Linked DNA regions of Homo sapiens: all the other regions are linked to region 3. The links come from fine-mapping of genetic effects on gene expression. A gene starts in region 3. Each other region holds a variant in brackets. All regions are shown on one strand. Distances are between the middles of the regions. Region 1 overlaps CAPN8 (calpain 8). Region 2 overlaps LOC105373281 (a long non-coding RNA gene). Region 3 holds the start of CAPN8 (calpain 8). Region 4 holds the start of CAPN2 (calpain 2). Region 5 overlaps CAPN8 (calpain 8). Region 6 overlaps LOC105373281 (a long non-coding RNA gene).

Region 1 (5,074 bases), 110 kb before region 3:
CATGAGTGTGGTACACACCGTGGCAGAAGGCTGCCATGCCAGGGTCCTGCTGCCTTTCACAGGGCTCGCTTGAACAGGGATAAAGTAACAGGAACAGCAGTGATAGGATTGAACCAGATGTGCCAGAGCCAGTGTGGAAGATCCTTAAATCCTCAGCACAATTCCACAGCCATTTTCAAGTTAAGGAAGTCGTGATTTTGTAAACTGCTGAACACTGTATACATGCAACATCATTTGTCATTTTCATGTGACGTAATTGCTTGTGGTTTGTAGCTACCAAGAGGCAGAGCTAGACTTGGAAACCTAAGGTTGGTTCACCCCAAAGTGCCGGCTTTCCCCACCACACCTACAGGAGTTGGTATTTCACATAGGAGCCCATCTCAAACTGGGGGCAGAGATTGAGAGAATAGCATATTCTGTGTGCATCTGGGATAAACACTGAGCCAGAGGGAAGAGTCATCCCTTAACTCTCAGATGGAGAGCAGATCTCAGGCAGGATGACCAAGGAAATGCAGAGAAGGCGTGCTGGGCTGATGTCTGGGTCCCAGTCTCAACTCAGCCCCTTATTCATCATGTGACTTTAGCCGAGTCACTTTCCATCTTCCCATCCTCCGCTAGCCAGGCCCTGGCAATTCTACTGGAAATGAGAGAGGCAAGAGCTGCACAAAGCAGTGTCTCCTCTGAGGACAACTGGCCTCACCCCAGCACAGAGTGGTCAGTCCCAATAATAAGACCTGAGGACCTGGGCCAGGCACGGTGGCTCACACCTGTAATCCCAGCACTTTGGGAGGCCGAGGTGGGTGGATCACCTAAGGTCAGGAGTTCGAGACCAGCCTGGCCAATATGGCGAAACCCTGTCTCTACTAAAAATGCAAAAATTATCCAGGCGTTGTGGCTGGCATCTGCAGTCCCAGCTACTCGGGAGGCTGAGGCACGAGAATCGCTTGAACCCGGGAAGCAGAGGTTGCAGTGAGCCGTGCACCACTGCACTCCAGCCTGGGTCACAGAGCAACAGTCCATCTCAAAAAAAAAAAAAAAAAAAAAAGACTTGAGGCCCCTTTAAAAAGCCTCTGGGGCTAGAAGACTACCCCCATTAGCCTGCCAGGAAAGAAATGGGATGTCAAGAGTCTACATTTGGACCTTGACCCCGTCGTTCATGAGGCCTTGTACCCTCAGCCAGCTCCTTAACCTCTCTGTGCAGGCCACTTTACAAGCCGAGCAAGGAGAGTGACCAATACTGCCCCATGCAGCCAGAGAGAAAGGTAAGATAAAGTGCATGAAGAACTATGCAAATATGAGCTTTTCCTTTCATCATTCTTGGTGTTCTTAATAAAATATGGCCCTTGGCAGCTAAGGAAACAGGTTTTGTTAGCAAAAATACTGGCCTGTAAATCCATCTAAAACATAAATTGGCTCATCTTTGCAAGGGTTTTATTCAATGGCTATGCAAAGGAACTGTTCCCAGGTTTTATTTCCTGCAAGGGATTCTGATATCTTTTCTTCTATTTTATCCTTAAGTCTAGAAAGTCACCCTGAGTTTCCCGGGGTGGTGGGGGGAGACCATTGTTTTTTCCTCTTCCGGGCCCTTTTCACACACTTTATTATCCTCCAAAGAGTAACACATTCGCTGTATTTATGGGGCCGGTTTTGACATTTCAAGTCCTGGTTATGCTTTGACTTGTGGCCCCCACCGGGCTGCTACCAAAGTGAACGGAAGCCAGGGCAGGGGAGAAGGATCAGGGGTCGCTTCTTTCTCTGCTCCAAGTGCCCAAGTTGCATTCATGTCGGGCAAAGCTTGGATTCCTCAGGCTGCTGGTCTCCCAGAGGGCGGGCAGGGCTGCAGGACGGTGACAGGGAACAGGGCTAGTCCTGCACACTAATCCCAAGCCAGGTTAGCTGAGCTGCCTTCCACTGCGGCTGGGCAATCCTCACTCTGAAGGATATCTATTTGGAGAGGTTTTGCCATCCCAGCTTTTTATTCAGAGACCCCAATCTGACAGGGCCAATCTGCAAACAGAAAGGCTTTTGGCAGGACCTGGAGATCTGGCTTTTCTATTTTCTCAAGAGTCAGTCAACGCAGCAAGATAAGTAGCCTCAGGACCAATTCCCAAGTGATGAAGGAAAGGTACTC[A/G]ATCTTAAGACAGGATGGTGATGGGCACAGAAGCTGGGGGCCCCTGAGACCTGAGTCTCACCCTTTTTATGCCTAGAGACCTCAGGGAGTAAAGAATGAAGTGACCTGAGCATTCCTGAATATTCTCCTGCCCACCTGGGAAGCCATGTTCGCCCTCCACTCACCTTCCCTGCCAACTTCTCAAACAGCCTCCTGAACTGGTCATCTTCCTGATCCACCTCACTGGGATGTGGCTAAAAAGAAGGACATTTGCAAAGTTAAAATGGGAATCGTCAAGGAGAATGAAAGACGAAGATTTAAAATTCATTCCTTCATCCATTAGTATCTATGATGCACCTACTATGTGCCAGGCTTTGGGCTAAGTGGGGGCACATGGTGGCAAACCAAGAGACAGCAAAGGTCCTGGCCCCAGGGAGCTTACAGTCCAGCAGGGATGAGCAGAGAGGCAGCGCTGGGGCCTAGCAGTTTTCTCTCTAAGTGATTTGGGGAAGTGAGCCCCACCAACCCTGAATTTCTGATTACAACCTGAACAACTTTCAGAAAATGACACTGACACCAGAAAATCTTGGTGTGAATCTGTGGACTCCTAAGGGAATCACTGATAATTTTCCAGGGAGTCTGAACTCCAGAAATTGCGTGAAAACATGGGGTCATATCTAAATGCATTTTTGGCTGGGTGCAGTGGCTCACACCTGAAATCCTAATACTCTGGGAGGCTGAGGCGGGCAGGTCACGTAAGCCCAGGAGTTCGATAGTAGCCTGGGCAACACGGTGAAACCCCATTTCTACAAAAAATACAAAAATTAGCTGGGTGTAGTGGTGCACGCCTGTAGTCCCATCTACTTCAGAGGCTGAGGCCACAGTGAGCCAAGACTGTGCCACTGTATTCCAGCCTGGGTGATAAAGCGAGACCTTATATCAGAAAAAAAAAACATTTTCTTAGCTTTCATCAGATTCACGAAGAGCAACATGATTTCAAAAGTGTTGAGAACATGGCCTAGTAGAAAGAGTAGAACTAGAAGCCAGGAGACTGGAGTTCAAATAGCAGATTGTACCCTTACTGGACACTATCTCAGGGCTCTGAACATCCATGGCCTCCACTCTGTTATTGATTTAACCAGACCATTTTCATGGGGCCATTTTAGGAATCAAATGAGAGCTAATGTGGGTCAAAGTCCTTTGGAAATTACAAACCATTATATGAATGCTTCTGTCCAGAGACTTTCTGATGTGACAATGGGCTCTGCCCAAAATAGGACAATGCCCAGTTGTCACCACAAGACAGAATGGAAAAGTGACAGCTTCCCAGATGACACGAAATTTCTAGAAAGCCGGGTTAATTTCTTTCAAAACTATCACTAAGATGAGTACAAAAGGCCCAATATAGCTTGATGATGCTGTACTCATAAAGATAACCACTGTAGTAATAATACTTGTCTTTGTTGAGTACTTACTACCTGTCAGGTACTTTGCGTGGATTATTTCATTTAATATTCACCACTGTCCTGTGAGGTTCCTCTCATTACTGTCCTCACTTCACCAATGGACAAACTGGAATTTTAAATGTTACTTCATTTTAAATGTTATGTAACAGGCCAAGATCACACAGCTAGTAAACAGTGAAGCCAGGATTAAACTCCAGCCCATGCACTTCTCCACCACCCTCTGGAATGATCGTCAGAGAAGATGCTCCCTGCATCCGACTACTCTCAGCCTCTCTGGGGCTGTTTCCTCACCTGCAGAATGAGGATATTAACGCCTACCATGCTGTTTACATAGAAGATATGCTAATCTAAAAATACATCTAGATTTTTAGAAGAAAAAATGATAAACACATCATATCTCATCACACATATATGATTTTAAAGTGGTTTTATAGGGAAAACAACATTATATCATTCATGTAATACAGTATGCCAAAATCTTGGATGTCCATAAATTCCAGACATGGAGTAATATTCTCCATGTCTGGAAAAACATAAAATTGCATAGGGGAAAAACATAAAATTGCATATAAAAACTAACAACAAAACAGTATATGGATATGGACACACACAGGCACATAGCAGGCATCCCGTCACTGGGAGTTATCATTGGACACAAGGGAATTTTTGGACATTGGGAATGAGGAAAACGTGTACGTGGTTGCAACTGTGGTACTTCACAATTTGTCCATTCAAAAAAAGATTTACTGAACACCTGGCCCATGTTGGGAACTGTTCAGAACCTGCGTGTGAATGCAATGGTGAACAAGGCGTAGTTTTTGTTCTCAAGGAACGTACTATAGTGGAATTTTCTATTTCCCTGATACAATCTATATGAAAATGCTTTGCAAATGGTATGGCAGCATGGCAAACGCAAGGAATTATTTTCTTGTTATTCATTATATCACATGTTGGGAATGTCTTTACAACCCTGCTCAAAGTGAACACGGCTAAATTCCAAGAGTGTGTTTGTTCACCCTGTAATTTTTCCTTCCCTCATTCAGAGCAGGTGATTATGCTCTTTGAATGTCCAACTGTCCGTGACTTGGAGATTTCTGCAGGGAATAAAACAGAAGTTCCTAAAGGCAATAGTCCTTCCTGTCTTCTGTAAAGTACTGAGTCCCCTGAGGACATTATCTGTGTATTCTGGGGTGTGTGTGTGTGTGTGTGTCAGTCACAGCACAGTGGTGCCCTAAAGAGAAAAAGCAGGGTCTCCCTGAGACCAAGAAGATGTTGAAAGTTTACAGGATCTTGGGGATATGGGAACCCTTGAATGGCTCCATAGCCATGTCCTAGTACCTCAGAAGGGGAGGCTGGACCATTGGCCTGAGGACTCCCAGTTCATCAAAGATTCTAGGCCCCATGCTGAGCACAGAAGCCCAAGAGCTGTCAGTCATAAAGAAACCTGTGAGCTGACCACAGGGGTAACCAATGTGGACCCATGACCAGAAGAGACTTC
Region 2 (5,074 bases), 35 kb after region 3:
ATCAAACGGGCCCCAGGAGGCGCCATTTTACCGTCATCACCTGCCTGGGCAGGACCACCCGCTATAGCTCACAGTGAAGAGCATGATTGTGGTGTAATAACTTTATTACTACAGGCTTATTTTTGTTGTTCAGGAAATCTTGGTGACCTTTAAAACTTCCCAAGACACACAAATCATTCCAGTTGCACAAAAGGATGGAGCGGGTTATTTTCTCTCCAATGAGAGCCTGTCAACCTGTTGGTGCAGAAATACATGTGCAGGCTGTGTTTAATTGTGAGTGGGGGTTGGGCGCGGTGGCTAACGCCTGTAATCCCAGCACTTTGGGAAGCCAAGGCGGGTGGATCACCTAAGGTCAAGAGTTCGAGACCAGCATCGCCATTATGGTGAAACCCCGTCTCTACTAAAAATACAAAATTAGCCGGGCGTGATGGCAGGCATCTGTAGTCCCAACTACTCGGGAGGCTGAGACAGGAGAATTGCTTGAATCCAGGAGGCAGAGGTTGCAGTGAGCTGAGATCATGCCACTGCACTCCAGCCTGGGTGACAGAGCGAGACTCCTTCTCAAAAAACATAAAAAGTGAAAATAAAAATAAAAATCGTGAGTGGGAATAGACTAGGAGAAGCCCCCAAATTATTGTATCTTCATAAAGCCAAGCTCACACTTGGGAGGCTGAGGCAGGATAATTATGGAGGCCAGGAGTTCCAGACTAGCCTGGGCAATATAGCGAGACCCCATCTCTACACACACACACACATATACACACACAAATTAGCTTGGCATGGTGGTAAATGCCTGTAGTCCTAACTACTGAGGAGGCTGAGGTGGGAGGATCACTTGAGCCCAGGAAACGGAGGCTGCAGTGAGCTATGATCATGCCACTGTACTCTAGCCTGGGTGACAGAGCAAGGTCTTGTCTCTTAAAAATAAAAAATAAAAAGCCAAGTTCTTCTCCATCAGGGCCTGCTTCTGAAGAGTGGGCAAGCAGGACCATGGGCCTACAGTCCTGCTATCAGAAGAAGTTCTCATGGACCCTGGAACACCTGTGATGGGGCTCAGGAGCCTCTCCACCAGAGCTGCCTAGAGCCCTACTCCTTCCCCACCAGCCTGACCACCACACTCACCTCTTTCACCCTTCACTTCCAACCCCTCCAATTGCCCTTACAAGGTCCTATAGCAGCTAGTCCCTCCCCACCTCTCGGCCTCACCTCTGGCCTCTTCTGGCCCTTGACAAAGATTCTTTGCTTGACCAAACTTTAGTGAGCCTCCTGATCCTTTCCTAGGCCCATCTGTGCACTTCCTTGAAAAATTCAGTTTTAACGAGGACCCTGCTAAGTCAGTTTAGCTAGAACCCCTCAACACCTTGCTATCTGATCATCCCCAATATCTAACTGTGCTCCTCATCCTCCACCATCTAGGTGATGTCCAATGACCCTGTCCTGTCTTCAGCAAGACTCGGTTAGGGGGTTTAGCCAGAATCCCCCTTATTCTTTACGTTTACTCTTAGTAATTATCTGTCACTGACCCCCACTCTGCTTCTTGGCTATGCATTCCCACCTGGCCGTGCCATATTCCGAGTTGAGCCCAATCTCTATCCACCCCGCAAAACCCCATTGCAGTGGCCCCTATGCCTATTGCAACAGTCCTGAATAAAGCCTTCCTAATCATACCTCAACAAGTGCCACCGAATAATTTTTTCTTTTCTTTGACACCAATCTCACATTACTACCACCACCCTCCCCCAGGACCCTACTCCCAGAACACACTCAACCACCCCCATCCCTACATAGAATGCTCAGGGCGCCAAGGGGGCGTCCAGGGACTTCATGGTTTCTAGCACTTTGTAGTCCACCGAAATGCCCCCAGGAGTGGCAATCAAGTGGAGAGGCTGGGCTGTGTGTTGATGGCCAGTCTGGTCCCAAGTAGACCCCATAGAGATGTCCTGGGCCCTTCATCCCCCCTCCACACCAGCACCAGCACCCACAACTTAGGGACAGACCAGTCAGCCCCAGAGAGAGAGAGAAAGAGAGAGAGGGAGGAGGGAGCAACAAGAAATGCTTGCACAGCTCTGTTCTGCAACATTCTTATCTTTCTCCTAGAGGAATTCAAGCATTAAACCCTGGGGGAGGAATCTTCTGGTTCTCTTGTAAAGGAGGGTACACTCCACCCCACCCTAAACTCAGACATTTGAAGCAATCCTAGTGGATAGTAAATCTGGGCTCCTCAAAGTTCTCAATTCAGGGACTCCTTTAGCATGACACAGGGCCCAGGGAGCATTTCCCTCACCCTAAATCAATGATTCTGACATCAAAGATGCCAACAAGTTTTCCCTGGGAACGCTTTGTGCCTATGACCCTTCGTTCAACAAACCTTTACCAAGCACCCACCAGGTGCCAGGCACTATGCCAGGATCACAAAGGTGAACAAGAAAGACATGGTGTCTCATTCAGAAATGGATGGGCTA[GC/G]GGGGAAATGGACACTAAATATTTGTATCACCAGGTGATACGCGCTCTCACAGAAGTTACATAAAACGTGCCAAGATGACAGCTCTAATTATTCACTATTGTGCTTTTCAGTTTATATTCAAGTCCACATTGCAGAATACATGTTAGAGAGCACTTATGTCTTGACATGACTTGCACTTTTGATCAGTCCATAGACTGCTTGAGTGGAAAGAAATTCCTCTAAGACACTCCCTTCTGAGTATGAGTCAGAAAGCTGAGGTCTCCCCAGCATAGCCGGGTCAGGGGCAGGGTGACAGGGCCTCCCGACACACGCAGCATCCAAGCAGACTGAGCAGAGCCTGCAGAGCGGGCAGCAGGATGGGACCTCTCCCGAGAGTCTGGAAGCCCCAGCTGGCTCCGGCCCTCTCTAGGGCTGCGGGACCCTCCCTTCTCTGGCCTCAGCTTCTTAGCTGCCTTGGTTAGACTGGACAGGAGGAGACAGCTCTGCCCTCCTTTCCACCTCTGAGCTTATGCTCTTGTGAGTCTCATTCTTGCCATGAAGAATTGAAGAATCTTTGTGCTCTGAGTCAGAAGCTATGTGGCCGCTTTGCTAAAATGTGACTCAAACACAGCCTCAGCCCTGAGGCCCCTTTCATTATATTCCCTTATTTGGTCCCAGGCAGCATTTCCATATTCTCTCTGGGGAGCTGGTGGGCAGAGCCTTTCTGTGGGCCAAGGAGGAGCTCAGGTGCCAGACACTCAGACTCTGATGGCTCTGTAGCTAACTGGCCCATCCTCAGAGACTAACGCAAAGGAACGAATTTCCAGGATGTTCGACTATGTGGAGAAAACAAAAAAAAAGCAAAGAAAAAAATATTTTTAAAGAAAGAAAGAAGGCCAGGTGCAGTGGTTCACGCCTGTAATCCCAACACTTTGGGAGGCCGAGGCAGACAGATCACCTGAGGTCAGGAGTTCAAGACCAGCCTGGCCAACATGGTGAGTCAATACTAAAAATACAAAAATTAGCCAGGTGTGGTGGTGCACACCTGTAATCCCAGCTACTCAGGAGGTAGAGACAGGAGAATCACTTGAACCCAGGAGGTGGAGGTTGCAGTGAGCTGAGATCGTGTCACTGCACTCCATTCTGGGCAACAGACTCCGTCTCAAAAAAAAAAAAAAAAAAAGAGAGGGAAGGAAGGGAGGGAGGGAGGGAAGAAGGAAGGAAGGAAGGGAGGGAGGGAGGGAGGGAGGGAGGGAGGAAAGAAGGAAAGAAGGAAGGAAGGAAGGAAGGAAGGAAGGAAAGAAGGAGGCTGGGCGCCGTGGCTCACGCCTGTAATCCCAGCACTTTGGGAGGCCGAGGTGGGTGGATGATTTGAGGTCAGGAGTTCAAGACCAGCCTGGCTAACATGGTAAAACCCTGTCTCTACTAAAAATACAAAAATTAGCTGGGCCGTAATGGTGCACACCTGTAATCCCAGCTACTAGGGAGGCTAAGGCAGGAGAATTGCTTGAGCCTGGAAGGTAGAGGTTGCGGTAAGCTGAGATCGCACCACTGCACTCCAGCCTGGTTGACAGAGTGAGACCCTGTCTAAAAAAACAAAAAAAAAGAAAAGGAAAGGAAAAGAAAGAAAAAGATGGGAAGAAACAAAGGAAGGAAAATAAACTACATTATATGGAGAATTATTTGGACACCATCAAACTTCCACTAGCTGTCCCTGAAAACCGAAATTAATATGCTAAAAAATTACTATCTCTAAGTCCATAGAAAAGTCTCCTCTGTATATACATCAAGAAGAGAGCAAAACGGGGAGGATAGGACATAACCCACCTCCCAGAGAGAGAAGCAGCCCGGCCAGTGGAAGTGTCCTGGTGATATTCCCCCAAGCACTGCTACATTTCCAAGTGGCCCCTGTGACTGGAAATTAGAAGCATAGGAGTTATTGACCTAGGTAGATTTTGAGGCAAAAAAATCCACAAAGGTACAAGAAGAGGAAGGAGAGGAAGGAGCTGGTGAAGGAGATTGAGAAAGAACAGCCAGGAAGGTGGAAGAAAAACCAGGAGAAGGAGGGGTCCATGGAAGCAGAGGGAAGAAAGTAAGGGAATGGCAACAGTGGCAGTGGCAGCTGCTGGACACAGAGAGTAAGAACTGAGAAGGTTTCCCTGGATTTCGAATCAAGGAAGTCATTGGGGACTGTGACCACTGCACTTCGCAGGGTGCTGACAAGTAAGGCTTAGAATGTTCATTTTCTCCCCCATTTGCTCTGCAAACCACATTGCCCCTGTCTAGGACAGAGGTTCCCAAAAGCAGTTTTGCATTCAAATGCCAACTCCACTACCCACTGACTGTATAACCCTGGGTGACTCATTGAGTATCTTGGTGTCTCAGTTTTCTCATCTGTAAACATGGAAACAATGACAAGACCTATCTTATAGGGCTATTCTGAGGATTAAATGAGTAAATATGTGCAAAGCATTTGATTTTTTTTTTTTTTAGATGGGGGTCTCTCTATGTTGTGCAGGCTGGTCTCAAACCCCTGGGCTCAAGTAGTCCTCTCACCTCTGCCTCCCATTGTGCCGTGCCTGGCCATTTGCAAAGCACCTGAGATGAGGATGTGTTCTCTCCAGGCTGCTC
Region 3 (5,074 bases):
GGGAAGATGAACCACGGTGGGCGGGAGGGCAGCATGGCCAAGGAGTTATTCTCAGAGATGAAAACTGTTAGGCAAAATCAGCAGGATCAAAGTAAAAAGGGTAGAGGTAGCTAGCTGGAGTTAAATAGTGATTTTGACCATTTTAGAAGAAGTACTCTCCCTTTGTCTTCCTGTTTCAACCACTGCCAAGAAAATAGGAACCCTGACTTAATTTCCCTATCATGGTTTAGAAGACAAAAGGTGCCCAGGTCATTTCATAGCCCCTCTCCTGAGACGTTGTTATGAGCTCTGTTGAACAGAGCACTTTGTATGGATGAGCTCAATTCTCACAACCACTCTGTATGGGAGAGGTTCTCATCCCTGAGGAATCACTTGACAAGGGTCACATAGTGATAGGTCATGGGTCTAGGTTTTGGGAGGACTGTTCTCCATCCCTTGCCCTTGAGCTTTGGGTAGTATCAGTAACCGCATCCAGGAGCCTCTGCCTTCCGTCTGCATCCACAGAGCCCCAGCTCCCACCTCTCCACTCACCAGCCCTGATGGAATAATGTCAATTCATGACCTTGCGCAACCGTGCACCTTTCAGCAATGATGTTGTCACAATTTACCTGCCAGCTGATTGCATCCAGCACTGAGTTGTTCCATTGTGCACTGGCCCAGGGACCATATGCAGTAATAACAACTACGTATTCTGCATCTATTATGTTCTGGGCACTATGCTCTGAGATTTATCTCTAATTCTCATACCAACCCTGAAAAATAAGGTGCCAGTAAATGCCATTTTACAGATGAGAAAACTAAGGTTCACAGAGTTTACCGGCCCAAAACAACACAGGCAGAGCTAGGATTCAAATCTATCTTACCTAGTTCCAAAGCTCATCCATGCTCTTCTCTCTATACCTCACCATCTCTGAACAAGAGTTCAGGCTGGGTGTAGTGGCTCACATCTGTAATCCTAACACTTTGGGAGGCTGAGGTGGGCAGATGGCTTAAGCCCAGGAGTCCAAGACCACCCTGGGCAACACAGCACAACCCTGTCTCTACAAAAATATGTAAACATTAGCTGGGTGTGGTGGCACGTGCCTATAATCCCAGCTACTTGGGAGGTTAAGGTAGGAAAATCACCTGAGCCCAGGAAGGTTGAGGTTGCAGTGCACTGTGATCGCACCACTGCACTCCAGTCTGGGTGACAGAGTGAGACTCTGCCTCAAAAAAAATAAGAGTTCAAAAGGTGATGGGGGGGCCAGATGCAGTGGCTCATGCCTGCTATCCCAGCACTTTGGAAGGCTGAGGCAGATGGATCACCTGAGGTTGGGAGTTTGAGACCAGCCTGACCAACATGGAGAAACCCCATCTCTACTAAAAATACAAAATTAGCCAGACATGGTGGCACATGCCTGTAATCCCAGCTACTCGGGAGGCTGAGGCAGGAGAATCACTCAAACCCAGGAGGTAGAGGTTGCAGTGAGCTGAGATCATGCCATTGCACTCCAGCCTGGGTGACAGAGCAAGACTCCATCTCAAAAAAATAAAATTAAAAAAGGTGGTGGTGGAGGGATCTGAAATATGAGATCCAGACACTTAGGGTCCACAGCCTCAACTTCTCCCTCAGTTCCTCCTGATCAGATGTAAGGCCCCTCCACCTTGTATGTCACTCAACAGCAAGCCCGCTTCCTTACCGTGGGCCGCTTCCAGATGATGCCTTGAGTTTGCGGAGAGCCTGGTCCAAGATCCTTGTAGCCCAAAGCTGATGGACATGCTGGGAACTCAGGGTCCTTAAATAGGACCCCTGAGTCCAAGCACTGTTGCCTCAGGGTCTTGAAATCCTGGCCCAAGTACTTCAAAGCGTTTTGGTTGGAGCCAAGACCTTGAGTGGCTGCCCGCTGCCTAGATACACCAGCTGCCTGGGCTGCCATGGCCGTGGGCTCTGTAGGGTGGACAGAAGGGCAGGGCTGCACTGTACTCTCAGACACCTGCTCCACTGGGAGGGGAGCTATAAGGCACTAAAGGAGGTGGAGCAGACAAACATTTCACCTGAGGCCCTGTTCCAGAAGGAAGTGAGTCATGGCCAGGGACAAATATGTACCCAAGGTCCAGGCCAATCTGCCCCACCTTCTTCTTCTGCCTTTTGCAAATAATTTGGGGTCTGGGAACTTTCCAGGGCCCATCCCAGGCCATTAGCCTAAGAAATCCATTAGGATCTTGACCCCACCCCGGCATTCCCTCCACACACCTCTTTGCAAGACCTGCTTACCTTGCTTCAAGCCCATTGACTGAGATGAGAAGGCTTATTGAGCAGCTTGAAGCAAATATTCATCAAGGAATTGGAGGCATGGCTCTGAGCAGGAAGAAGGCAAGTAGTTACAGGGGCCTCCTTTCCTGCCAGAAATGTTTTGGTGCATATTTCCTAGGAAGGCAAAAAATACCAGAGAGTAGTGATTCACAGGCCAGATTTGGAATAAGCCTGACTGGAGGAGGTTCCACCTGTGAGTGAACGCTTTGGCCTCTGACTGCCTCGGTTTCTATCCCAGCTCCCCCGGTAATTTGCTCTGTCATGTTGGGCAAGTTGTTTAACCTCTTTTCTCCTAAGTTTTTTTATCTATAAACTGGAAGAGCATAGGAGAGCCTACCACAAAGGGTTGTTCGGAAGAGTGATGAGATAGTACATGTCATCTGCTTAGAACAGTATGAAGTAACATTCAGTGAATGTCAGGTATCACTATTCCTTGAAGCCAGGATTCCCAGAAAGGCCTTGGAATCAGGAGCCTTGATTCCAATCTCAGAAGTGAGTTACAAGCTGTATGACCTTGGATTAGTCACTTCTCTCTGGGCTCCAGTTTCCTACATCTGGTCTACCCGAAGGATGTCAACCACACCAATGCTTTTTGAACTTCAGTGTTTGTGGCACACTAGAAAATGGTCCCCCAAGGATACCAGGTCCTCATCTTGAGAACCTGTAAATAGTCCCTTATCTGGGAAAAGGGTTTTTGCTGCTATGACTAAGTTAAGGATCTCGAGATGGGAAGATTATCCTGACCCTAAATACACAAGTGTCCTAAGAGGAAGGCAGAAGAAGATTTGACAATAGACAAAAAGGAGAGGTGATGAAATGAGGCAGGCAGAGGTTAGCGAGATCCTGCCCCACTCCAGGGAACACCAGCAGCCACAGGAGCTGGAAGGGGCAAGAATGGATTCTCCCCTAGAGCCGCTGGAGGGATGTGGGCCTTCCAACACCTCGATTTCACAGCCTTGGGACTTCTGGCCTCCAGAACGGTGACAGAATACATGTATGTTGTTCTAAGCCACCATATTTGTGGTCATTTGTTACAGAAGACGCAGGAAACAAATATAGTGTGCAGAAGAATCCCCTGGAGCACTCGCTCAAAATGCTGATTCCCTAATAGGTGCTACCACAAATCCTCCACCCCCATCCCTCCCAAAAAAGAGTTCTAATTCAGGAGGTCTGAAGTAAGACCCAGGAATCTGCAGTTTTTAAACCAGTACCACAGAGATGATGCTAATACAAGGATCCAGGGATGCCCTCTGAGAAGCTCTGGACCAGCCGACCTCTGAGGCCTCCAACTCTGACCTTCTAAGCCAATGACAGTCCACGTGTTAAGCACTTAGCTAGGTGGGTAGGTCTGAGCAAGTAGAAAGAAGGGTTGCTCCCAGGTGTTCAGAAAAACATGTGGTTTCCCAGGTTTCATCAGAAACTCAAGGCCAGGCCAGGCATGGTGGCTCAGATCTGTAATCTCAGCACTTTGGGAGGCTGAGGCAGGAGGATTGCATGAGCCCAGGAGTTCAAGACCAGCCTGGGCAACATAACAAGACCCAGTCTCTAAAAAAAAAAAAAGAAAAATTAGCTGGGCATGGTGGTGCATGCCTGTAGTCCCAGCTACTCAAGAGGCTGAGGTAGGAGGATCACTTGAGCCCAGGAGGTCAGGTCAAGGCTGCAGTGAGTCACCCACTCCAGCCTGGGTGACAGAGTGATGAAACCCTGCCTGAAAAAAAAAAAAAGAAAGAAAGAAAGAAAAAGAAATTCAAGGCCAAAATGGCCTTCAGAGGCTAAAGCTAGCCTCAGAAAGACTATGGTCCATGCCCCCTTGGGGACCCCGTCTTCCTTCCCTCAACATCACTTTCCCTTTGATTCCACATCTGCCCACTATTAAGCTCATCTAGTGTTCACAGTTACATTTTCACCGGCCCACACAGTTGACACGGTCTCACTTGGGTGGCCCCAACCACCCCTAAAACCAGAACCACAACTCCATTCAGTCAAAACAGAATGGTCATTGCAAATCTTGGCTGTGTCACTGCCAAGCTTAAAACCTCCAATGGCTGCCCACTGTTCCTGGGAGAAGAGTAAGGGGGATTTTGCACAGCCCATTAGACCTTGAGCAGCTGGCCCTGCCTACCTTTCCTCCTGCTCCATTCTCCCCTCCTGGCTTTCTTTCCATTCCTGGAATGTTGTGTTCTGTCCTGCTTCAGGGCTTGACACCTTCTGTGCCCTCCACCTGAAATGTTCTTCTCCCCACCCCAGCCCTGTTCATCCAGTAGACCTGGGTGCCCCAGAAAAGGTTTTCTGGACAACTCCACACCTCATACTAAGCCATTTTCCCCTCTTATACGCTCTCATAGCAACCTGCAAGACCCTGTCCCGCACCGATTCCTGTAATCATTTAATTAATGCCTCTCCACCCCATAAGGCTCTGATCTCCACGAGGACAATTACCCCTGTTTGTTTTACTCATTGTTGTATTCCTGAACCCTAGAAAGCTCCTGGAACATAGTAGGGACTCAATAAATATTTGTTGCATGAATATACACCTACAGGTATGAGATGTGCTGTGGATAAACGTGCACCAGGTATAATGGACCTGACACCTTCCGGCAGGGTCATTAGTTCATTAGCAAGGATCCTATGGGATTGTTTTTCTTGCCTCTTTCTCCCCTACACCTCCCAGAAACATTCCCCTTAGACTGACTAAAATGAACAAGCCCTTCCTCCATCCAATCACAGAATAAGCACAGCTGGTAATTTTCCTTCTGCACAAGGGAACTCCTTCGAGGTTAG
Region 4 (5,074 bases), 46 kb after region 3:
CAAAAAATATAGAAAATTAGCCAGATGTGGTGGTGTGCACCTGTAATCCCAGCTACGTTGGAGGCTGAGGCAGGAGAATCGCTGGAACCCGGGAGGCAGAAGATGCAGTTAGCTGAGATCGTCAAGATCCTGTCACTGCACTCCAGCCTGGGTGACAGGGTGCTACATCTCAAGAAAAACAAAAACAACAACAACAACAACAAAAACAATGAAAGGCTAGACCCAGATCTTCTGGAAGGAGATGCTCTAAACCAGGGTTTCTCAGCCTCTACATGACTGATGTCTTGGACTAGATCATGTTTTGGGTGGAGAATGTAAACCAAAAATAAAATTCTAAGCCTCCCCCTCCCCTACCCCCGCCAACCATCTAAATGGATGGTTCCTCCTTAGCCGAGGCTCTTAAAATTTTAACCTGAAATTTTCAGGCCATGAAGGAAAGGCAAGGTCGGACATGCTTCATTATACCTCTCCAGCGTGAACATCAACCAGAGTTTAGGTCTGATAAGAAACATTTTACTGCCTGTTCACTCTGAAGCCTGCTAGCTAAAAGCTTCATCTATGTGATAAAACTTTTGTCTCCACAACCTCTTATCGCAACCCAAACATTCCTTTCTATTGATCCTGGGCCTTTAGACAAACTCAACCAATTGTCAACCAGAAAATGTTTAAATATTTACCTATATCCTGGAAGCCACCCCCACTACCCACCCACCACCCCCCGCCACTTTGAGTTGTCCCGCCTTTCTGAACCAAACCAATGTATTTCTTAAATGTACTTGACTGATGGCTCTTGCCTCCCTAACATGTATAAAACCAAGCTGCACCCCAACCACCTCGGGCACATGTCCTCAGGACTTCCTGTGTCACAGGTGTGCATCTTCAACCATGGCAAAAGAAACTTTCTAAATTAAATGAGACCTGTTTCAGATTTTCTGGGTTCACAAGAGCTATCTTGGACATTGGAAGATGTTCAGCGGCATCCCTGGCTTCTACTTAGTAAAGGCCAGTAGCACCTCATCTCCTAGCTGTGACCATAAAAACTATCTCCAGACATTCCCAAATGTCTCCTGGGGTGGGTAGGGGACAAAACTGCCCCCAGTTGAGAACCACTGCTGTAGACCATGCACAGTTTTCCAGTGAAACCCAAATTCTTCCCTACTACTGTAGAGAAGAAGAGGAGGTAATTTCTGCCCATCTGCATTTCTTGGCACGCACCCATGTCTCTGTGTGTGAGATGAGAATCACACCCTAGCTCCACAACAGAGTGGTCACAGTAGCCAACACAGGCAGTATTCTAAATGCTCTCTCCCTATAGTAACCCAACTAATCCTGCCAGTTAAATATGAGTTTCAGGTAAACAATGAATCATATTTTCTTTTAGAATAAGTATGTATGCCCATGCAATATTTGGGCCCTACATATACTTTAAAAGTATCTGTTGTTTATCTGAAATTCAAATTAAACATTTGGGAGGGTTGTTGTTTTATTGGCCAAATCATTTTATTTTATTTTATTTTTGATATGGAGTTTCGCTTTGTCACCCAGGCTGGAGCGCAGTGGCGCGATCTCGTCTCACTGCAACTTCTCCCTCCTGGGTTCAAGCGTTTCTCCTGTCTCAGCCTCCCGAGTAACTGAGATCACAGGTGCCTGCCACGACGTATTTTTAGTAGAGACGGAATTTCACCATGTTGACCAGGCTGGTCTCGAACTCCTGACCCCAGGTGATCCGCCTGCCTCCGGCCTCCCAAAGTGTTGGGATTACAGGTGTGAACTACCGCACCCAGCCTTATTGGCCAAATCTGACAACCCTATCTATAATCAAATAAACAGCTGAGCAGTAGTAATTGCAGCATTGTGATTGCAATAGGCCTCCGGTGGCTTAGAGTCCCTGTTCTGCCTGTGACTGTTGTGCCACATTGGGGACGTCATTTAGCGTCTCCGAGGCTCAGTTTTCTCATCTGTAAAATGGGGACAATATCAGCGCCTTCTTCAGAGTCGCTGGGAGGATTAAATGAGATGATGTATGCAGAGCCGTTAAGACGCTGTTTGGCACAAAGTTCAGGGCAGCTGGTTTAGTTTCCTCGACTTCACTACCTGACCCTCTGCTAACTCCCCGGGTGTTTTCCGGACGGCCACAACTATCCTAGCCTTCTTCCCTATGGGCTGCAAAGGTGGCCTCGGGTTCCGGTGGGAGCCCCAACTCTGGACCGCGATTCGCGAGCCTCCCCGGCGCCGGGCCGCGCCATCCCGGGAGCTGTCCGCAGATGGCAGCACCGGCCCCGGGTCGCGGCGTTCCCGGCGCTCGGCAGGCCGCAGGATGGCCTGGTCCCGGGCCGGGAGCCCAGCAGGCCGGGAGCGGCTGAGGCCACACCCCGCGGGCCGGGCCGCTTCCCTCCGGTGAATCATCGCTCGCAGCGGCGGCGCCCGCAGTGGCCGCAGCAGCGCGCCGGGCCCTGGCCGCGCCCCAGCCGAGCGCAGCGCGGAGTCGCCCCGACCTTTCTCTGCGCAGTACGGCCGCCGGGACCGCAGCATGGCGGGCATCGCGGCCAAGCTGGCGAAGGACCGGGAGGCGGCCGAGGGGCTGGGCTCCCACGACAGGGCCATCAAGTACCTCAACCAGGACTACGAGGCGCTGCGGAACGAGTGCCTGGAGGCCGGGACGCTCTTCCAGGACCCGTCCTTCCCGGCCATCCCCTCGGCCCTGGGCTTCAAGGAGTTGGGGCCCTACTCCAGCAAAACCCGGGGCATCGAGTGGAAGCGCCCCACGGTAGGAAGCGCGCGGCAGGACGCGGGCAGGGC[G/A]GGGTGCCGGGCAGGGCGGGGTGCAGGCCGGCCCGCGGCGCGCTGGGGCGGGGGGCAGCCCGGGTGCTGCAGTGGGGAAGCCGCAAGCCAGGACCTCGCAGTCCTGCGACACCTCCGCGCCGCCAGAGCCCGGGACTCTGTTCGAGCGTGGGGGGACTCCCGGGGCCTTCCCTCTCTTCCACCCACCACGCTTTCCTGGGCGGGTCGAGGCGAATCACTGCCCTCAGATCCCACTAGCAGGCCACTTTAGGACTTCACAAAAACTCAGGGTGATGCAGGAGGCCGGGGTGAAACTTTGATTGGACTCTAGCGGGGAGCTGGAAGGGAAGGGGAATCGGGTCTGCAGGGAAGGGACGGTGAGAGGCAGCATCTACCAGACAAAGTCCGTCTCCAACTGGGGTTCTGTCTGTTCATGGAGGGGGACAGGCCATAGCCTGGTCATTTTGTGACTAAGGATAGTCTCCTGCAGCCCTGGGGTTAGATTTATTTTTCCAAAGGGGAGCCAGCGATACCTCCTCATAACATTGACACTGGTAATTAACCCAGGACACGGAGGTGTCTCATGGTTTCCCTGGCGGGAATCACCCGGGAAACCTCCGGGAGCCCTCCAGACCCCCTTATCCCGTCCCCCAGGGTCTCTGACCTCCCGGCCCTGGGACAACTTGTGCTCCCCAATCTACTTGTCCATTCTGTTTCTTGGGGAACCCCTGAGGCTCCTCCTCCTTTGGGACACTTCCCCAGGCTTCCCCTACCACGCCTAGGAAAGCCTGCCCTGAAGTCCAACTTCTAGATTCCTGTTGTGAGAACAAGGCTTCCAGCTCTGCTTCCACACCCAGCAGCCTCCCAGGTCACCTTCTGTTACCCTAAATCCAGCCCATAGGTAGCAAGGGCTGCAGGAAGCGCCCTAGCCCAGACTCAGAGCACTTGGGTTCTTCTTCTTGCTAACCTGCTGGTGACCTTGAACGAGCCATTTAACCTCTCTGTGCCTCCATGTCTTCATCTAAAAGAAAACATGCTGCCTAAATATTTTCTCTCTTTTGTGGCCCACTAGGCCCTGCCGTCATGGCCTCCTTTCAGTCTCTCAAAGAGCCGGTTCTTTCCTGCATGAGGCCTTCTCACCAGCAAGGCACGCTGTTACCTGGAGTGTGGCTCACTCTCATTCTTCCCAACTTAGTCACATGTTCCCTTCCTAAAGAGGTCTTTTCTGACCCTTCTTAGCAGCCACCTCCCCACCTTGTTTTTCTCTGTCACCCCACTCATTTCCTTCATAGCATTGTCACAGTTTAGAATATAATCACATGTATTTGTTCTTCCTACTGAACTGCAGGAATCATGTGTATATTATTTACCAGTATATCCCCAGTGCCTGACACATAACCATGCCTTTCACAGTATTCATTCATTCATTCATTCATTCATTTACTCACTCATTTGACAACACTGATTGAGCACCTGTTACATGCCAGGCACTGTCCTGAGAGCTCAGGAGATACACCAGTGAACACAAAAGAAGTGACTGTTTGTAGAATATGGATGCAGGATTGTAATGTGCCTCAAATGAAATTATGGTTGTGAAAGTGATACGCTGACCTGACTCAGTGCCTCACACCTGTAATCCCAGCACTATGGGAGGCCAAGGTGGGAGGATCGCTTGAGCCAGGAGTTCAAGACCAGCCTGGGCAACACAGTAAGACTTGTCTCTATAAAAAAGTAAAAAAAAAAAAAAAAAAAGTGAAACACAAACCAAGAGAATGTGTTCACTTTACATTTGCATGGCACTTTACAGTTTACATAGTGAGTTCACATACTCATTCACTTATTCTTTCATTCATTCAGTAAGCATTTCTCGAATACCTACTATATGCTGGGCACAATGCATATGGTTTCTGCTTCTGAAGACTTACTTCTGAGGCTAGTGAGGGGACAGAGACAGGTCCCCCAACAGTTGGAAATGCCTGTGGGACTTCCAGATGAGGATGTAGAGGTCTAGAGATGATCTAGCGCCACTGCTTAGGGCAGGCGGGCTGTGCACTGCACAACTAAGGAAGAGTGTGACTTTTACGATCCCCATTTGCCAGTTGAAGAAATTGAGGCTTGGGAAGGTTAAATACTTGCTCAGAGTCAAGTGGATATAGGGCATAGATCCAGGACTGTGTGTAGTCTGTGCATGTTGAGCCTACCCCTTATGGCTGCGCTCTCTGCCTCCTTCCTACCTTCTCAAATGCTGCTGAGGTCAGGCAAGGGGAGCACAGTTGTTTCCGCTGGATTTGAACAC
Region 5 (5,074 bases), 120 kb before region 3:
ACATTCATCTAGATCTACTTCCGGAAAGAGAAAATTAATCCATAATCAATCAGACTGATCCAGGGCCAAAGCATGTGTGTGTGTGTGTGTGTGTGTGTGTGTTCTCCTTGATATTTCATGTCTGCATAGAACAACCAGCTATGCAGACATAGAGTTTGCTTTGAACAACCAGCCCTGTCCCCATTCCTCCCTTAGGGACACCATGGCTGTGCCATCTATTTTCTTACTAACAACAGAGATGCCAGCATTCAGCTGTGAGCAAAACTAACCTGAACTGCCTTTCCCCTCTAGCTATTTGCCAGGTAAGAATTCTCCTCAGTACAGTCCAGCAGTCTCCCATGTCTGCAAATAAGGAAGAAAGCCCTGTTCTCCCAGCATCCCATCCCTGCCCCCTTCCTGGGCTCCTTTCCTGAAGGTGGCCTCCGGATGCATCTCGGTCCACAGAAGACTTCTCCTCTGAGAAATTAACCTACACTTTGTATCTTTCAGCAGTTTTGAGTTGTGCCATTTCCCGAGAACATCTTCTTTCCCAAAGCATAAAAAGCCCAGGATACAGCCCAGATAGCATATCACGAGAGAAAGGTGGAAACCATTCTGGCTCACAACTTTAATTGATTGCTTTCCCTCCACTGGGCCCACCGGGTCGGCTTACATAGCTCATAGCTCAGTGCTGCTGAAATAGACCCAGGGCAAGAAAGGTATGAACAACCAGTGAATGCCACTGGAGCATAAATGTTCACAAAATTGTAGAGAAGGGGTGACAAGAAGCAAGCAGTGGGGCAGGGAGTGTCACTGATGTCCGAAACCCCGGGTCAGACCAACACGCAGCACAGCCACTGCAAAGGAAAGGGACAAGATTGAGTCTTGGCTTCTCAGGGGCTGGTGTGCTTTCACCATTGATGCTCTCCTGCCTCACATGGGTGCGATCTTTTTATCTCCATTCTCCAGTAAGTGCCTTGCTCAAACATGGGAAGCAAGGAAGGCTTTCACTATATCACTAACTCCTGAACCAGGGTACTACAGAAATGTGACTCAGAAAAAGCTCTAGACCCAAAGGGAGCTCCAAAAATAGGTATGTGCATGTATATTCATACACACACACACACATACATATATACACAATAGTGTATACTATTATATACACACATATATATACACTATATATGTGTGTGTATATATATATCCCTATAGATTCCTATATATGTGTACATATCTTTTCCTATATATGTATTTGTTTCTATATGTGTATATATATATATTCCTATATGTGCATATTTGTGTGTGTATATATGTATATTTTATGCACCCACACAACCACACTCCATTTTAGGTTCCACACTATTGTCCAGGTATCTGTGGGAATCCACAGGTCTATTTCTAGGAAGGCCTTTCCTGGGCTACAGGAAAGAGGTCAATAGCATTCCCACTTTAGAGAAGAAAAGAAAGTGGGTAAGCACAGACAATGGGGCACAGCCAGTAATAACCTGGCCCTCTAGTTCCACCGCCTCAGAATCAAGTCAAAGGCCAATGCCTCCCCCTGCCTGGACCCTTGGAGACATCTCCACACTTCCTGCTGTCCCCTCTGGCCAGTAAAGGCCTCTGTCGTACAGGGGTGCAGTGTCCACGGGGGAAGTACTCTGATTTTTTCTGCAAAAACATTATGTGACTTGTACACAGTAAAAACACTTGTTCATTTTGCATCTTCATTCTACCCACTGCAATTTCATTTTTGTTTCCTACATCCTTCCATAGGTCCATATAAGACAGCTGGTCCTAGAAGCCAGACACTTTATATTGTGCCCACTACCCACAACTCCATCCAAATTAACAAGGGCTTGCATCTCCGAAATTATCTGAAATGTAGCTGTAGCTTTATCTTTACGATCATAATAATAATAAACAAAAATGTTTGGAAAACTGTATAACAGTTGCCTTCCTCCCTGCTGGGTGCCTGCCACAGAAC[A/G]TGCATGGTATTCACATGGAACTAAGACAGCCAACAGGAATAAGCATCACTTGGCAGCTACATGGTCCAAGAATTTCAGAGTACCATCAGCCAGCAATTCATCAAACCTCAGGACATTCACCTCGGCCAGAGAGAGCTGAACCATGCCATCCTTGTCTTCGTCCAGAAGGCTGAATAGTTCTAAAACACCAGAGAAGGAAATGAAATTAGATAAGGCTGTTCCTGGACTTTGGAACAATCAGAGAGCTGCCTCTGTCTACCCCATCCCCACCTGCGGAACTCTCCTTTCCCCTACCACCCCCTCCCCTCCAGCCCCCACCTAGGCCCAGGGGCCTCAAAAAGCTAGATCCAGGGCACACAATGAGCTTTTGGGGGATCAGATGCCCCCCTGCCGAAACAGACAAACCCCGTTGCCAGCAGAGATGGTCCCTTTGGTATCTCCATCCTCAGAAGCTTTATATCAGAAACGTGCAATTACTTTATCAAGGTCAAACAGATTGTGGTTGTCTTGCTTGTGGGTAATCCAGTCCCTTAGCTTTGTCTCTGGCTAACTGACCTTGACCCACTAGAACGTAACACCTACCAAACCTCAGTGGAAGGAAAAATCCCTTCCTAATAAGATATCTAATCTCAAGGCCCAAGATGGCAGAAAAACGCCTATTGCCTTCAGAGGGCACCCCCCATCCCTTCATTGGAAGGTGGCACATGTTCTCAATATGATCCCTATTGAAAAACAAATATAAATAGACACTAAACACCATCTAAGAACAGTTACTGTGACTCATTCATCTTGGCCTAGTGACTGCACACTGTAGATGCGCAATAGTCTGGATGGCAGCTTTGTTAAGTCTCCAAAAAAGGCATCCTCCGTCCTGGATCTGGCCAGCCTGGACTTCCTCAGCCCCTTCAGGTCCAGCTGCCCCTCGCCCCCAAGGTGCCAGCATTCCAGAAGCCCTGTCTATCATTTTCTGGGTCCCTGGCCTCCTAAAGGCAATGTCTGGTTCTGCCCCTTGGCCCTGCCCCTGCCCCACCTTGCACCTTGGGATTAATAGGATGGGGCTGGAGGACAGAGTGACTCACTGAAGAGGGTCTCCAGGCGGATCATACAAGCCACGAAGCTGTCAAAGTTGATGCCAAGCTTGCTGCACGCATACCGCAGGGCAATGGTCTGCTGCACCTGGCTGTTGAGGGTGAAACCTGAGGGCAGAGGGAGCCTGGGTCACAGGTAGAGTGGAGGACTCAGCACTGTCTCCCATAAACACTCAAGGAGCTGACATCCCAGGGGCCCCTCTGTGGTTCTGTATCAATCTGCAAACCAGGCCTGACTCTGCCTTCTCCAGGGGATCCCAGAAGGTGTCCTGCCATCCATCCCTCTCCTTGTAGCTACTCCTCACCAAGATCAGCCTAATTCCAGGTCCAGCGCTAGTACCAGCACCAACTCAGCCATGGGTCACATCAGCAAGCAAAAGCAGAGAAGGTGAGGGGGCTGCCTGTCTGGCCAGTTCCTGTCTGTCTCCTTCATAGCCCCTTCCTCTGTAATTGCTGTCACCTTCCCAGTAACAGGCAGAGATCTTGGAAAAATTCTAAAATATTATGCTATATGGAATCGAGCAATATTCTCCCCTTCCTGGACAGGGAAGGTACTCAACAAAGCTCTGTTGTTGCCTTGATATCCCATATAAGAAAGCTACAAATGATGATCATTAGCAATCATCATCATGAGAATAAATATTTACAATGTGCACACCTGGATCCCAAGACCCTGTCTACAGGATGTGTCCTCACCTGCCTTCCTGAGGGCTGTCCTCATCTCGTGGGCATCGATGGTGCCCGAGTGGTTATAATCAGTTTCCCAATAGATCTCCTAAAGCAGGAAAGAAATCCCAAGTAGAAAACAACCATTCACGGCCCCTGCCAGAACCATCTCCCTCCACCACACTGCTTTCTCAAAAGGCCAGGGACACTTTCAAAAGGAGACCCTATTGACTCCTCCCAAGAAGGTTTCAGAGCAAGCATAAGAGCTTGGCCAGTGCTGGCCCCTTTGCTGTCTGAACAGCAGGGCTTTCAGGGCAGTGGTTGGCATGAGAGTCTCTCATTGCCTTCTTGTTCCTTCATGACCAATGTGCCCAGGACTCAATAGTTTTGACCATGATTAAGGATGTGGTCAGAATACAATGGACCAGGAATGAGTGTAAGGGAGGATTAGAACAGAGGAGAGGATGCCCAGAAGGAAAAGAGAGTTACCAGATACTTCTGAATCTTCAGCCAGAGCGTCTTGAATTCCACCGCCCCCAAAGTGCCCGTTCCATTGCTCTAGGCACATTAAAGACCAACATGATTGAGTCCAAATTCTACATGCCTTATAGATTTCTTTCTCTTGTGAGCTTGCATGAGTGCCTTAAGGCCTTAGTGAACCTTCCATGTCTGTGGCAAGCAGAGCAGTGGGGGTGACGGTGTGTAACAGGTTCAAATAAAGATTAAAAAGTCAAACGTGCACCAAGGCTCTCCTCTGAGGCCAGGCACAGAGCTAGGAACAAAGGGCAAGTCATGAGCTGGCCAATCTGCAATATCGTGAATACCCTAATCATCCTGGTTTATTTACAGGGTGGAGCTGTATGATCTGTAAATTCGCTTCTACATTTACATTTCTGTGATTGATCATTCAGCTAATTAGAGTTTGTTGGAATGTCAAAATGTTATGGGAAAAGACATCAGGAGCCAGGAACCATGGGACTGGGAGTCTAAGCCACAGAATCTGCTCATAGGCCACTATACAACCAAACAGGAGGATATTATGAGGGATTTTCTGTGTCCAACTTACATTCACTCCACAACTTTTTTTTTTTTTTTTTTTTTTGAGACGGAGTCTCTCTGTCGCCCAGGCTGGAGTACAGTGGTGTGATCTCAGCTCACTACAACCACTGCCTCCAGGGTTCAAGCAATTCTCCATGTCAGTCTCCCAAGTAGCAGGGATTACAGGCACCCGCCACCATACTCCACTAATTTTTTTTTTTTTTTTTTTTTTTTAGTAGAGATGGTTTCACCATGTTGGCCAGTCTGGTCTTGAACTCCTGACCTCAAATGATCTGCCTGCCTCAGCCTCCCAAAGTG
Region 6 (5,074 bases), 25 kb after region 3:
GAGTCACCACACGAGGTCAATCTACTATTCTTGACCTCAGCTATTGGCTGTGATATATTATCATATATAGAGAGCTGGATTTGGTTTGCTACTGTTTTCTTCAGAAGAGAAAGCAGGATGTTGCTCAGCCTGGGAGGGTCATGCCCTTGGTTGAGTTAGCTCTCTGCAACTGAAACAAACTCTAAAGGATTTGAGACCTGGAAACTTTCTGCTAATCCCACCTCCCAAAGTTGGGGCAGTTCACATCCAATGACTGATAGAAGTAAGGTATAAAGACACAGACATTTTGGCTTAATCTAGCATCTCTGATGGGCCGTGTATGGTCCAGAACATCCCATAGGAATGGCCAAAGCTTTGTCACAATTGCATCACATTTTGACTTTTCCCTCTGCCCAAGACTGCTTCCTCCTCCTCTCATCCACGGATGTTGATTCCTAATAAATACTCTGTACACCAAGCACAGTCTCGGCATCTACTCCTGGAAAACCAGCAACAAGGTCAGCAGGGCTAGCTAGCTTCATGGGCAGCAACCTATGCAGTCATAAGGGCCCTGCTCCAAGAGGGGCCCCATGCTTAGGTTAATACTCTTGTCAACTAACGAGTGGTGAGGTTCATAAATTTTGAAATAAGAGGTTTATTTCTCATGAAGTGTTGCAATCTGCAAGGTGGCCATTCCTACAGGCTGGGAAGTGTAGCCTGTGACAGAAGTCAGAAGCAGGTACTTCGAGGCAGGGATGGATAAAACAGGAATGTATAATGAATGGCTTGGCTAAGTATACATATTTAGTACACAATAGGAGGAGTCATGAATATTTATGAAAAGAGAAACATGTGCATGTGCAATTGGGCTTCATGCCTCTTTATGCGTCACATGTTCAAAAAATGATGATGCTTGCATGATCCAAGGGTGGAGTTTTTGGCCCTCTGACATCAAAAGGTGAAACAGAGAACACAAAAACCATCAACGTGCATCTTCTGCAAACTGCTGAGAACCACTCTGTGGTCAGTGATCTCTTACCAGGAAGGAATGCTGGTTAGTTGCTGTGTTAAAACCACAAAAAGGCCAGGCACGGTGGCTCACACCTGTAATCCCAGCACTTTGGGAGGCTGAGGCAGGTGAATCACGAGGTCAGGAGATCTTCAAAACCATCCTGGCTAACACGGTGAAACCCCGTCTCTACTAAAAATACAAAAAAAATTAGCCGGGCTTGGTGGCGGGCGCCTGTAGTCCCAGCTACTCAGGAGGCTGAGGTAGGAGAATGGCGTGAACCCAGGAGATGGAGCTTGCAGTGAGCCAAGATCACGCCACTGCACTCCAGCCTGGACAACAGAGCGAGACTCCGTCTCAAAAAAAAAAAAAAAAAAAAAAAAACCACAAAAAGGAAGGGGGAGTCCAGTCATGGCCTCAGATGACTGGCTAAAGGCAATGAAGTAGAGTCATCTGTATCTTGTTCCCCAGGGCTGATTTCCGTGTACTCCTTAGGAAAAATTTCTGGTTAAAGATGAATAAGGATAGGGCATATTGAGGTGTATCTGACCTCCCATCCCCTTATGGCTGGGAACTCAGTTTTTAAGGTTCCTCTGGGGTCCACTTGGCTGAGAGGCACTCCATTCAGTCGGTTGGGAGGCTTAGGATTTTATTTTTATTTCTTACTCTGCTGTCATCATCTTGAAAATATAAATTTTGGTGCTCACTTCAGCAGCACATATACTAAAATTGGAATGATACAGAGAAGATTAGCATAGCCCCTTTTTAAAAAAAAAATATATATATATATAAATTTTGATGGCTTTAGAAATGATTTGCAGAGAAGTGAGTCAGAAAAATCTTATGACCAATCAAGATTTCACATTAATAAAGTATTATTATCCATTGTATTATATAAATTGGTGAAACAAAAAATGGTACATTTTTGCAATTTGTAGGTTTAGTCATTACTCATATATCACTATTATCCCTATTACATTTTATAAAAATTGTTTTTTTAAAAAAAAGCTTTATATTTTAGGGGTTTGTTCGTTTGTTTGTTTTGAGACAGAGTCTCACTCTGTTGCCCAGGATGGAGTGCAGTGGCACGATCTTGGCTCACTTCAATCCCCACCTCCCAGGTTCAAGCGATTCTTGCCTCCCAAGTAGCTGAGAATACAGGCGCCCCACCACCGTGCCCGGCTAATTTTTGTCTTTTTAGTAGAGACAGGGTTTCACCATGTTGGCCAGGCTGGTCTTGAACTCCTGACCTCAAGTGATCCGCCCACCTTAGCCTCCCAAAGTGCTGGGATTACAGGCGTGAGCCACCGCACAGGCTTTATATTTTAGTATTTTAATTACAGTTTTTTTCCTGCATTTTTAACAAGATAAGCACATTTTCATTTTG[C/T]ACCCAGCGCTATAAATTATGCAAATTACATACCCAGCAGGGAGGATAGGTTCCTGTGAAGATGATTGTCCCTGGTTGTCCTGTAGGAGTCTAGGAGAGAAGAGTGACACTTTAAGCTATTATCTGTTATTTGCAACTTCATGTGACTGACTTTCAGATACTTTGATGAAAGAAGACTTTTAAATGTGTGAAAAAGATCTCCTCAGGGCACTGCATACAAGGAAAACAGGGAGACTACCATCAAGGTGGGAAAGGGTGATACAACAGGGCCAGGGACCTGATGATAAACTCCAGATTTCACCAAGAGTTAGGCTTTGTTAGAATCCTGTTCCTAACAGGACACAAATCACACAGCGAACTATTAAAAATGAGAGCAAAGCACACAGCACAACTATTAAAAACTAAAAATTAAGCTGTCATTTATATGAGTCATTAACAAAACTCCCTTATCACCAGAAGTATGCTAACACCATATATAAAATTGAACATGTGGGGACATCATTCAACCTCTTGTTTAAAACTGGCTTTGAATGGCCCAACTCTAGAGAATTAGAATGCTTTTTATTATCTGGGGTCCTCTGGAGAGAGATCAACTTCTCAGAGTTCTAAATAGAGAAAATTATCTGGAGTTAATTAAAGTACGCCAATACTGTCATTTTCCACGTGGGGTGGAAAGAACTAATGTGTAGTTAGGATATCAGCAAAAGGCTAGTAGAAACACGAAGTCACTGGTAAATTGAATGCACAACTCCTGGGAAGTGATCAAAACGCAACTGTTTTGTATATTCTGCTACTTGTCTGTTTGTTATTTCTATTATATGTCTATGGCCACCTATACAAAAAGTGAGGGCCCTATTTTCATGTGAAAGGAACCGCCACAGTTAGAAACACTCTAACAAAGGGTAGTGGAGTAAACCAAGCCACTCCTGTTCTAAACAGATTTTAGATTCAGAAAGAATCGCTCTCTCTTTTTTTTTTTTTTTTTTTTTTTTTTTTTTTTGGAGAGATAGGATCTAGCTATGTTGGTCAGGTTGGTCTTAAACTCCTGGCCTCAGGCAATCCTTCCTTGGCTCCCAAAGTACTAGGATTATAGGCGTGAGCCACCACGTGCCCAGCCAGATTCAAAAAGAATCTATTGAATAGGGGGGAAACTAAGTAATTCAAGAGACTTTGTCTATAGCATTTTGACTATATCTTCTCAGTAAGGACAAAACGAACTATAAACAAACATTGAACCCTAACCTAGTTGGTAGTTGTAATTTTCATGGTAGTATGGGTTTGTGATTCTAAAACTACTTTCTGTGTATTCTTGAATTAAATAAATAAATAAATATATTCAGAAGGATGAAAGCAATATCTCTCACTGTTGGAGAAGAGAATTACAAATATGGAAAGAGGGAAGGTTAAAATAAATCACATTGTGGTCATTTGGAATTGGAGGCCAATTTAAATTCAAGTGGCAGGGTATAATTTTTTTTTTTTTTTAGATAGTCTCTGTCACCCAGGCTGGAGTGCAGTGGTGCAACCTCAGGTCACTGCAACCTCCACCTCCCGGGTTCATGCAATTCTCCTGCCTCAGCCTCCTGAGTAGCTGGGACTACAGGCATGTGCCACCATGCCCAACTAATTTTTTGTATTTTTAATAGAGATGGGGTTTCACCATGTTGGCCAGGCTGGTCTCGAACTCCTGGCCTCAAATGATTCACCCACCTGGACCTCCCAAAGTGCTAGGATTACAAGTGTGAGCCACCACACCCAGCTGGGTATAATTTTTTTTTTTTTTTTTTTGAGACAGTTTCGCTCTTGCTGCCCAGGCTAGAGAGTGCAATGGCACGATCTCGGCTCACTGCAACCTCCACCTCCGGGGTTCAAGCAATTCTCCTGCCTCAGCCTCCCAAGTAGATGGGATTATAGGCACCTGCCACCACGCCTGGCTAATTTTTGTATTTTTAGTAGAGACAAGGTTTCACCATGCTGGTCAGGCTGGTCTCAAACTCCTGACCTCAGGTGGTCCACCCACCTTGGCCTCCCAAAGTGCTGGGATTAAAGGAGAGGCTCTGCACCAGCGTGGGTATAATTTTTTATGAGTTAAAATTGTATTTTATTTATTTACATTTATAAAGAGAGCATTATGTTTAGATTTATGTACCTGGTTTTTTAAAAACTCGTTTACCTAATTAATGAGAGAATGAGTGGGATGGTAAAGTTGGTTTCAAGAGAACTTGAGAGATTAAGTATTATAGGCACTGAATAAAAGATGTTAAAATAGAATTTTGGGGTGGTATACAAAACTGGTTAATGTTATACAGGGCAAGAAGACTATAACCTTTGGGATTTAGGGTTTTTGTTTATTTGTTTGGTTTTTATTTTTTATTTTAGCTTTTGTTGTTTTATTTTTTTTCCCTGAATGAAATTATTAGTAGCTATACTAGACAAAAATCTACATGCTAGTATGTAACGTTATGGTCTTGGCCCCATTCAATAGTGAATAACAAATCAAATCAAGGTACATTCTCCTAAAGAATAAGAAAATTCATCCTGGCATGGTGGCTCACACCTGTAATCTCAGCACTTTGGGAGGCCTAGGTGAGCAGATCACCTGAGGTCAGGAGTTCGAGACCTGACCTGGCCAACATGATGAAACCCCATCTCTACTAAAAATACAAGAATTACCCGGGCATGGTGGCAGGCACCTGAAA

Evidence for each region.
Region 1: its variant is fine-mapped to the expression of CAPN8 in whole blood (TOPMed, PIP 0.97).
Region 2: its variant is fine-mapped to the expression of CAPN8 in whole blood (TOPMed, PIP above 0.99).
Region 4: its variant is fine-mapped to the expression of CAPN8 in whole blood (TOPMed, PIP above 0.99).
Region 5: its variant is fine-mapped to the expression of CAPN8 in whole blood (TOPMed, PIP 0.97).
Region 6: its variant is fine-mapped to the expression of CAPN8 in whole blood (TOPMed, PIP above 0.99).

What each region holds. Positions count from the first base shown.
Region 1 is chr1:223,551,537-223,556,610 of GRCh38, forward strand. CAPN8 (calpain 8) reads right to left here. Exons shown (of 21, transcript NM_001143962.2): 14 at 2,296-2,364. Among named protein-coding and RNA genes, the nearest start is that of CAPN8, 110 kb to the right of the region's middle. The variant A/G (reference allele first, on the strand shown) is at 2,132.
Region 2 is chr1:223,698,394-223,703,467 of GRCh38, forward strand. The region is part of intron 1 of LOC105373281 (a long non-coding RNA gene); the gene reads right to left. It also overlaps a transcript of CAPN2 not described here. Among named protein-coding and RNA genes, the nearest start is that of CAPN2, 12 kb to the right of the region's middle. RefSeq lists an enhancer at 2,693-3,539. The variant GC/G (reference allele first, on the strand shown) is at 2,463.
Region 3 is chr1:223,663,731-223,668,804 of GRCh38, forward strand. CAPN8 (calpain 8) reads right to left here and starts at 1,971. Exons shown (of 21, transcript NM_001143962.2): 1 at 1,680-1,971. The coding sequence starts at 1,916.
Region 4 is chr1:223,710,111-223,715,184 of GRCh38, forward strand. It overlaps CAPN2 (calpain 2), which reads left to right and starts at 2,429. Exons shown (of 21, transcript NM_001748.5): 1 at 2,429-2,767. The coding sequence starts at 2,531. RefSeq lists enhancers at 2,026-2,075, 2,115-3,066 and silencers at 2,176-2,565, 2,776-2,895. The variant G/A (reference allele first, on the strand shown) is at 2,800.
Region 5 is chr1:223,541,024-223,546,097 of GRCh38, forward strand. CAPN8 (calpain 8) reads right to left here. Exons shown (of 21, transcript NM_001143962.2): 17 at 4,208-4,276; 18 at 3,749-3,827; 19 at 3,044-3,160; 20 at 2,085-2,143; 21 at 593-836. The coding sequence ends at 813. Among named protein-coding and RNA genes, the nearest start is that of CAPN8, 120 kb to the right of the region's middle. The variant A/G (reference allele first, on the strand shown) is at 1,964.
Region 6 is chr1:223,688,364-223,693,437 of GRCh38, forward strand. LOC105373281 (a long non-coding RNA gene) reads right to left here. Exons shown (of 3, transcript XR_949164.2): 2 at 2,409-2,465. It also overlaps the pseudogene RNU6-1248P. Among named protein-coding and RNA genes, the nearest start is that of CAPN2, 22 kb to the right of the region's middle. The variant C/T (reference allele first, on the strand shown) is at 2,376.